Linked DNA regions of Homo sapiens: region 2 is linked to region 1. The links come from fine-mapping of genetic effects on gene expression. A gene starts in region 1. The other region holds a variant in brackets. All regions are shown on one strand. Distances are between the middles of the regions.

Evidence for each region.
Region 2: its variant is fine-mapped to the expression of GLIS3-AS1 in atrial appendage (GTEx, PIP above 0.99).

The regions. Positions count from the first base shown.
Region 1 is chr9:3,897,520-3,900,439 of GRCh38, forward strand. It overlaps GLIS3-AS1 (GLIS3 antisense RNA 1), which reads left to right and starts at 1,127. Exons shown (of 2, transcript NR_026663.1): 1 at 1,127-1,440. It overlaps GLIS3 (GLIS family zinc finger 3), which reads right to left. Exons shown (of 11, transcript NM_001042413.2): 7 at 1,172-1,316.
Region 2 is chr9:4,762,453-4,765,372 of GRCh38, forward strand. No RefSeq gene overlaps it. Among named protein-coding and RNA genes, the nearest start is that of AK3, 23 kb to the left of the region's middle. RefSeq lists an enhancer at 477-1,415. The variant G/C (reference allele first, on the strand shown) is at 1,074.

The DNA of each region.
Region 1 (2,920 bases):
CTGTACCTGAAACCTCTGTAAGTTTGGTCAACCCTTCTTCGTCTCATCTCCCTGTGTCTCAAAAAGCAGAGGCTATGTTGTCCCCAACAGTAAGTGCTTAAAGCAACTGATAAAGGTCCAATGGGCCATGATTAAGGCCCAGTTTTGATGACTGATGCTCTTGCAATACTTGCTTACTGCCCTTTCTCTCTGCATCTGAATCAACTGAGAACTGTCAAATTTAAAACGTTGTACAAGGATGTCTTTCTCCCATTCCACTGCAATGCATCTGTAAATTTTAAATTCTAATGGCTTATTCATACTTTTCGAAAGAAAAAAACAGTCTGCTGCCAAACCTGGCTCTGGAATCAGATGGGGGTGGGGGTAGTATCTGCAACCCACAGAAAATAGAAAATTCTCATTGTCTGGAATGTGGAGCTGGTAAATCTTTTTTCTCATCTTCATAGCATGACTGTAAGAGTGTTCCATATGTAAGGACAATCACTAATTATGTTTGCATAAGTATATCACCATTACAGAGAGTAGAAAATGCATAAAAATCCAGGCTGAGTAAAAGAAAAATAACTTCCTTATGGTATATTAATCTTTTCTTATTTTTTTTGTTTTTTACTACATACATGTAATTTTCCAAATATAGTCACCTATTATTCAAACCTAGGCAGATGGAAGGTGGTCTGGGAGTGTCATCCCATCTCCTTTCCCACAATGGTTGGCAAACATGAATGAACATTCTTATAAGTTGGTTTGCTGATGTGAAAATTTCCTTAGAGACCTGGGGCTTCCTTTTAAAACATAAAGATGACAACAACTGTTTCATTAAGAAATCCACACGCAGCCTGCTACCTGCTTAAGGAGGAAACATTTCCTTCGAGTCTAAATCAAGTGAGTAAATGTAACATAACTGCGAGGGTTGGGTACACTGAATTTCTGGCAGAAGTCCATAACTAAAAGAGGTAATGCATTATTTTATTTTATTTCTTTATGAGAAAAAACAATCTGCTGCCACACCCAGCTCAGGAATCAGAAGGGGTGGAGAGCAATTTGCAGCCCATTGATAAAGAACAACACAGACGATCTTAGGAAAATTTTTCTCACGTGAGCATTCCTTTTAACCAGAGTAAAAGGCCTAAAAAAGGGTAGTTGTGGTTGGCTCTGCCTTTGCTGTCTTTACCTGAATAGAGGTCAGGCCCGGGTCCAGGGGAGCGTCCCACGGTCCCTTCAGCAGCAGCATCTCTAGGGGAAGTGGCCGGCTGCAGGGACTGCACGGTGAGGCAATCTGTGAGCAGGTCTGGATGGAGCTCTGTGCTGGACCGCAACTAAGAGGACAAAACGGAAGAGACATCGATAAGGAGAGCCGGTCCTTGGAATATTTTCCTGGGAAGGCATCATGCTCTATCAGTGCAACTCAGCCCACAAAAATTTATCAAGCAGCAACTACGGGTAAGGCACAGAGCTTAACAGAGTGTCAATAAAAGGATCAGTTCTCCAATCCTAATAACACCTGGCAAGAGCTTCTGGAAAAATGTGGCTAGAGGCGGATTTGACTTCAGTCCTTGATATTTCCACTTCTGGCAACTCAACTTCCTATTATACTTCCTTTTATTTGCTCCGTATCTTATCAGAACTTGTAACGATAACAACAACAAACTCAAGTAGATTTAGTCCATCTTGGAAAGTGCTTTTAAAATAGAAACACTGTCATGAAAACATCCCAGAGATGATTAAGAAATGCCCATTGAGATTTAACTCCTATAGATTTTCCATGAAAGGAAAATACTCAAGTTAAATTTTAATATATTATGGCATGATTCAAAGATAAAACAATGTGATTAACAGTAACAAAACTCCAACAGTCAGTTACATAAAAACAGAACAATTTAGATCTTATACATTAAAGAGTTACATGTAAAAAAAAAATCAAACAATAAAAAATGCTAAAATAAACTAGGTGAAAAGTTATCTGATCTTTTAATGAATAAGAATTTTTTAAGTGTAATTGAAATGGAAAAAAAAAACAATGTAAGATTTAGTGACATAAAAATATTAACGTTCTGCTTGTACAAAAACATAATACCTTAAAAGCAATCTAGAAATGTATTTGTTACAAATATTGCAAATGGTAATCATCTTTGGTATTTAAAGAGTGTGTGTATAAATGGATTTTATAAAGACAAGACTAAACCTTTAGATATAGAGCTAGAGTATGCTTATGCAGTCAACAAATATTTATTAAGTGTTTGTTACATACTTCTCTAGACCCTAGGAATACTGACTGCTTTTGTCAAAGTTAGACTCTAGATGGGGAAGCAGATGATGAACAAATAAAACATATACAACCTCAGATGGTGATAAATGCTATGGAGAAAAGTGATGCGGAGAAGCGAGACAGTGAGTAGGAATAAGGGGTGGCAGCTTTAGATAGGAGATCAAGGAAAGCCTCTTGAAGATGGCATTTATAAAAAGCTTTGAAAGAAGTGAGGAATAAGCCGTACAGACCTATGGGGGAAGAACCTGCCTACCCTGTGGTTGTGCGGAGAAGTAAGAGTCAAGCAGGGTGAGCCTGGGGCCTGGGGAAGAGAAATAGAAGATGAAACCAGAGATAAAAGGTGGGGAGGTGGAAATGGGAAGGAGACGTTGGATAAAGCCTTGACTTGAACAGAAACTGTTAAAAAAAAAAAAAAAAGGAGAAACAGAAATGATAATAAGCGTGAAAAATGTTTGCACACTTGCAAAGAAGTGCAATGTTAAAACGTCTTTTTACTTGCTGAATTATCAAAAACTTAAAAAAAAACAGTAATGAAGGTACAGTGAGAGAGGCATTGTTCAACAATGTTCATAGGAGTGAATATTGGTACAAACAGTCTAGATGGTATGTGGGAATATTTTTTCAAGGTCCATAATTGAAATAATTTGATTCTAG
Region 2 (2,920 bases), 860 kb after region 1:
CGGTGAAACCCCGTCTCTACTATAAATACAAAAAATTAGCTGGGCGTGGTGGCACACGCCTGTAGTCCCAGATACTCAGGAACCTGAGGCAGGAGACTCGCTTGAACCCGGGAGGCGGTGGTTGCAGGGAGCCGAGATCATGCCACTGCACTCCAGCCTTGGCGACAGAGCGAGACTCCATCACACACACACACACACAAAAAGGTGAAATGAGCAGCATAACGTTGGAATGACAGGTGACTATTTCCTGCCAAGATTCCAGTTGCCATCAGGTGGCGCTGTGTCAACAACAAATGCTTTTACCTGAAGCGAGGAGGAAGTTTGGTTGATTTACTCGAATTCAAGCCTCAAATACTACATAACTGAATTTATTTTTTCTTACTCCGTTTGTTTGCAATTGTCCCACTTGTATGAATACATTGATTTTTTTTTCTCACCTGGCCCAGAACAAAGCTGAGTAAATTGATTTCTTAAGGCATGAAGCCTTAGACAAGAAAAGCCGTGGAAGGAGGCTGGTGGCAGCAGACAGCTGGGCAGGTCATGAAGGTCAGGGGAAGGAAATTAGCAATTACCCTTATTTCCATCTTCAGTGAGGAAAACCTGCTCCCCACCAGCACTGCCTGTTGTGAAATTACCCAAGCATTCAAATGAATATGTCATTTCGCGAGGGTGGAGCCATCCTGTAATTTCTGTCATCCAGTTCCCTTTACGGGTTGTTAAATGTCTACGTGAGTAACCCTTGAATGTCGTTGCTCTCACAAACCAAAGTCTGGAAGCCCGAGTCTTTCTTCTGGGTTGAGTACTTTATTCTTCTGAGGTGTGGGAACTGAGGCACAGCAAAGGCCTGAGGCCCCACGGGCAACTCTTTCTCCCCCTCCTCCCTCCCCTCCGCGCAGGGCATCCCCGTGCACAGAACTGATAGAGCTGGCCTGGCTACTGGCAGACTATCAGGCCAGGCCAGAGCTGGAGGCTGAGCTGGTTTCCTCCGGGCAGGACAGAGCTTTCAGGCAGCGACCTCCTAGGAGGAAGGCGGGGGGAGGGTTTGCAGCCTTCCCTACTCTGGGCAGACAGAG[G/C]AATGTGGTGGACAGGAAAAAGGGGGAGGAGGCAGGACCTCTACTCTCAGCATAGACCCAGTCTCACTGAAGAGGCACTCTTTAAAGGCATCACAGAGTTTAAGAATAGTGCATGGTAGAAATAACTCTTAATTTCTGAATGACCAAGTATAAATGAAATGGAAGTGCTTAAAAGTAATAAGAGAAAAGCTATATAGTTCCTCTTTTCCTTCCTTGAAAAATCAGGTGCAAAAGTCATCAGGTGCAGGGTCGAGCAAGATAGGCAGCTATGAGTGGGGTGGAGGTGAGCTGTGGTGGCCGGAACCTGACCAGGATCAGAAAGCATACATTCAGGGGCAAGTCCAGGCCAGAGTGTCAGAACCCAATTGTGGTGAGGGGTGTCCCGGCAGAGAGGCAGTCTGCCACAGGGTGTTGGAGTCCCAGTGGGGAGAGAAAGGTATCTCCAAGGACATGTATGTAAATGTACAATATTAAGGATAATGGGAGCAAAGTTTCTCGCTGTTGGAGAAGACAGTTAACAAATCATTCCTGTAATCCCACCACATTAAGAGGCTGAGGCAGAAGGATTGTTTGAGGCCAGGAGTTTGAGACCAGCCTGGTCAACATAGCGAGATCCCGTCTCCACAGAAATTAAGAAAACATTAGCCAGGTGTGGTGGCATGCACCTGTATGCCATCTCAAGGAAAGAGGCTGAGGTGTGAGAATCACTTGAGCCCAGGAGATTGAGGCTGTACTACAGCCTGGGCAACTGAGCAAGACCCCATCTCAAAAAAATAAATTATGGACAGAAAACTAGAATGAAAACTGTGTTAGGTTGGAATGAGAAGTATTGGTATGAAGTCATGGTTTTCAATAAACAAACTAATAAGATCCATATTTTATTACGTATGTAGAGAAATATAAGGGTAAATGCATGTATGATTTTGTGTATGTGTGTACACACATCCTTATATTCCCTACTTCTGTGCCCTGAGAGGGCCTGAGATCAATGATGCCCAATACTGGTTTCTATTTATTTTATTTTTAAAAAATAGAGATGGAGTCAGGCTGGGCATGGTGGCTCATGCCTGTAATCCCAGCACTTTGGGAGGCCAAGGTGGGCAGATCACGAGGTCAGGAGTTCGAGACCAGCCTGGCCAACATGGTGAAACCCCGTCTCTACTAAAAATACAAAAAATTAGCTGGGAGTGCTGGCACGTGCTTGTAATCCCAGCTAATCGGGAGGCTGAAGCAGGAGAATAACTTGATCCCAGGAGGTGGAAGTTGCAGTGAGTGGAGATCATGCCATTGCACTCCAGCCTGGGTGACAGAGCAAGAACCTGTCTCAAAAAACAGAGATGGAGACTTGTTATGTTGGCCAAGTTGGTCTTGAACTCCTGGCCTCAAGCAGTCCTCCCATCTCAGCCTCCCAAAGTGGTGGGATTACAGACATAAGCCACTGTGCCTGGTCCCAAGTCTGGTTTCTCTTTCTGTTTTTTTTTTTTTTTTTTTTTTTTTTTGAGACGGAGTCTCACTTTGTCGCCAGGCTGGAGTACAGTGGCACAATGTCGGCACACTGCAAGCTCCGCCTCCTGGGTTCAAGCGATTCTCCTGCCTTAGCCTCCTGAGTAGCTGGGACTACAGAAGCGCACCACCATGCCCAGCTAATTTTTGTAATTTTAGTAGAGACGGGGTTTTACCATGTTGGCCAGATGGTCTCGATCTCTTCACCTCGTGATCCGCCCTCCTCGGCCTTCCAAAGTGCTGGGATTACAGGCATGAGCCACTGTGCCCAGCCATGGTTTCTGTTTTTTGTGTGTGTGGTTTTTTTTTGTTTTTGAGACAGAGTCTCACTCTGTCACCCAGGC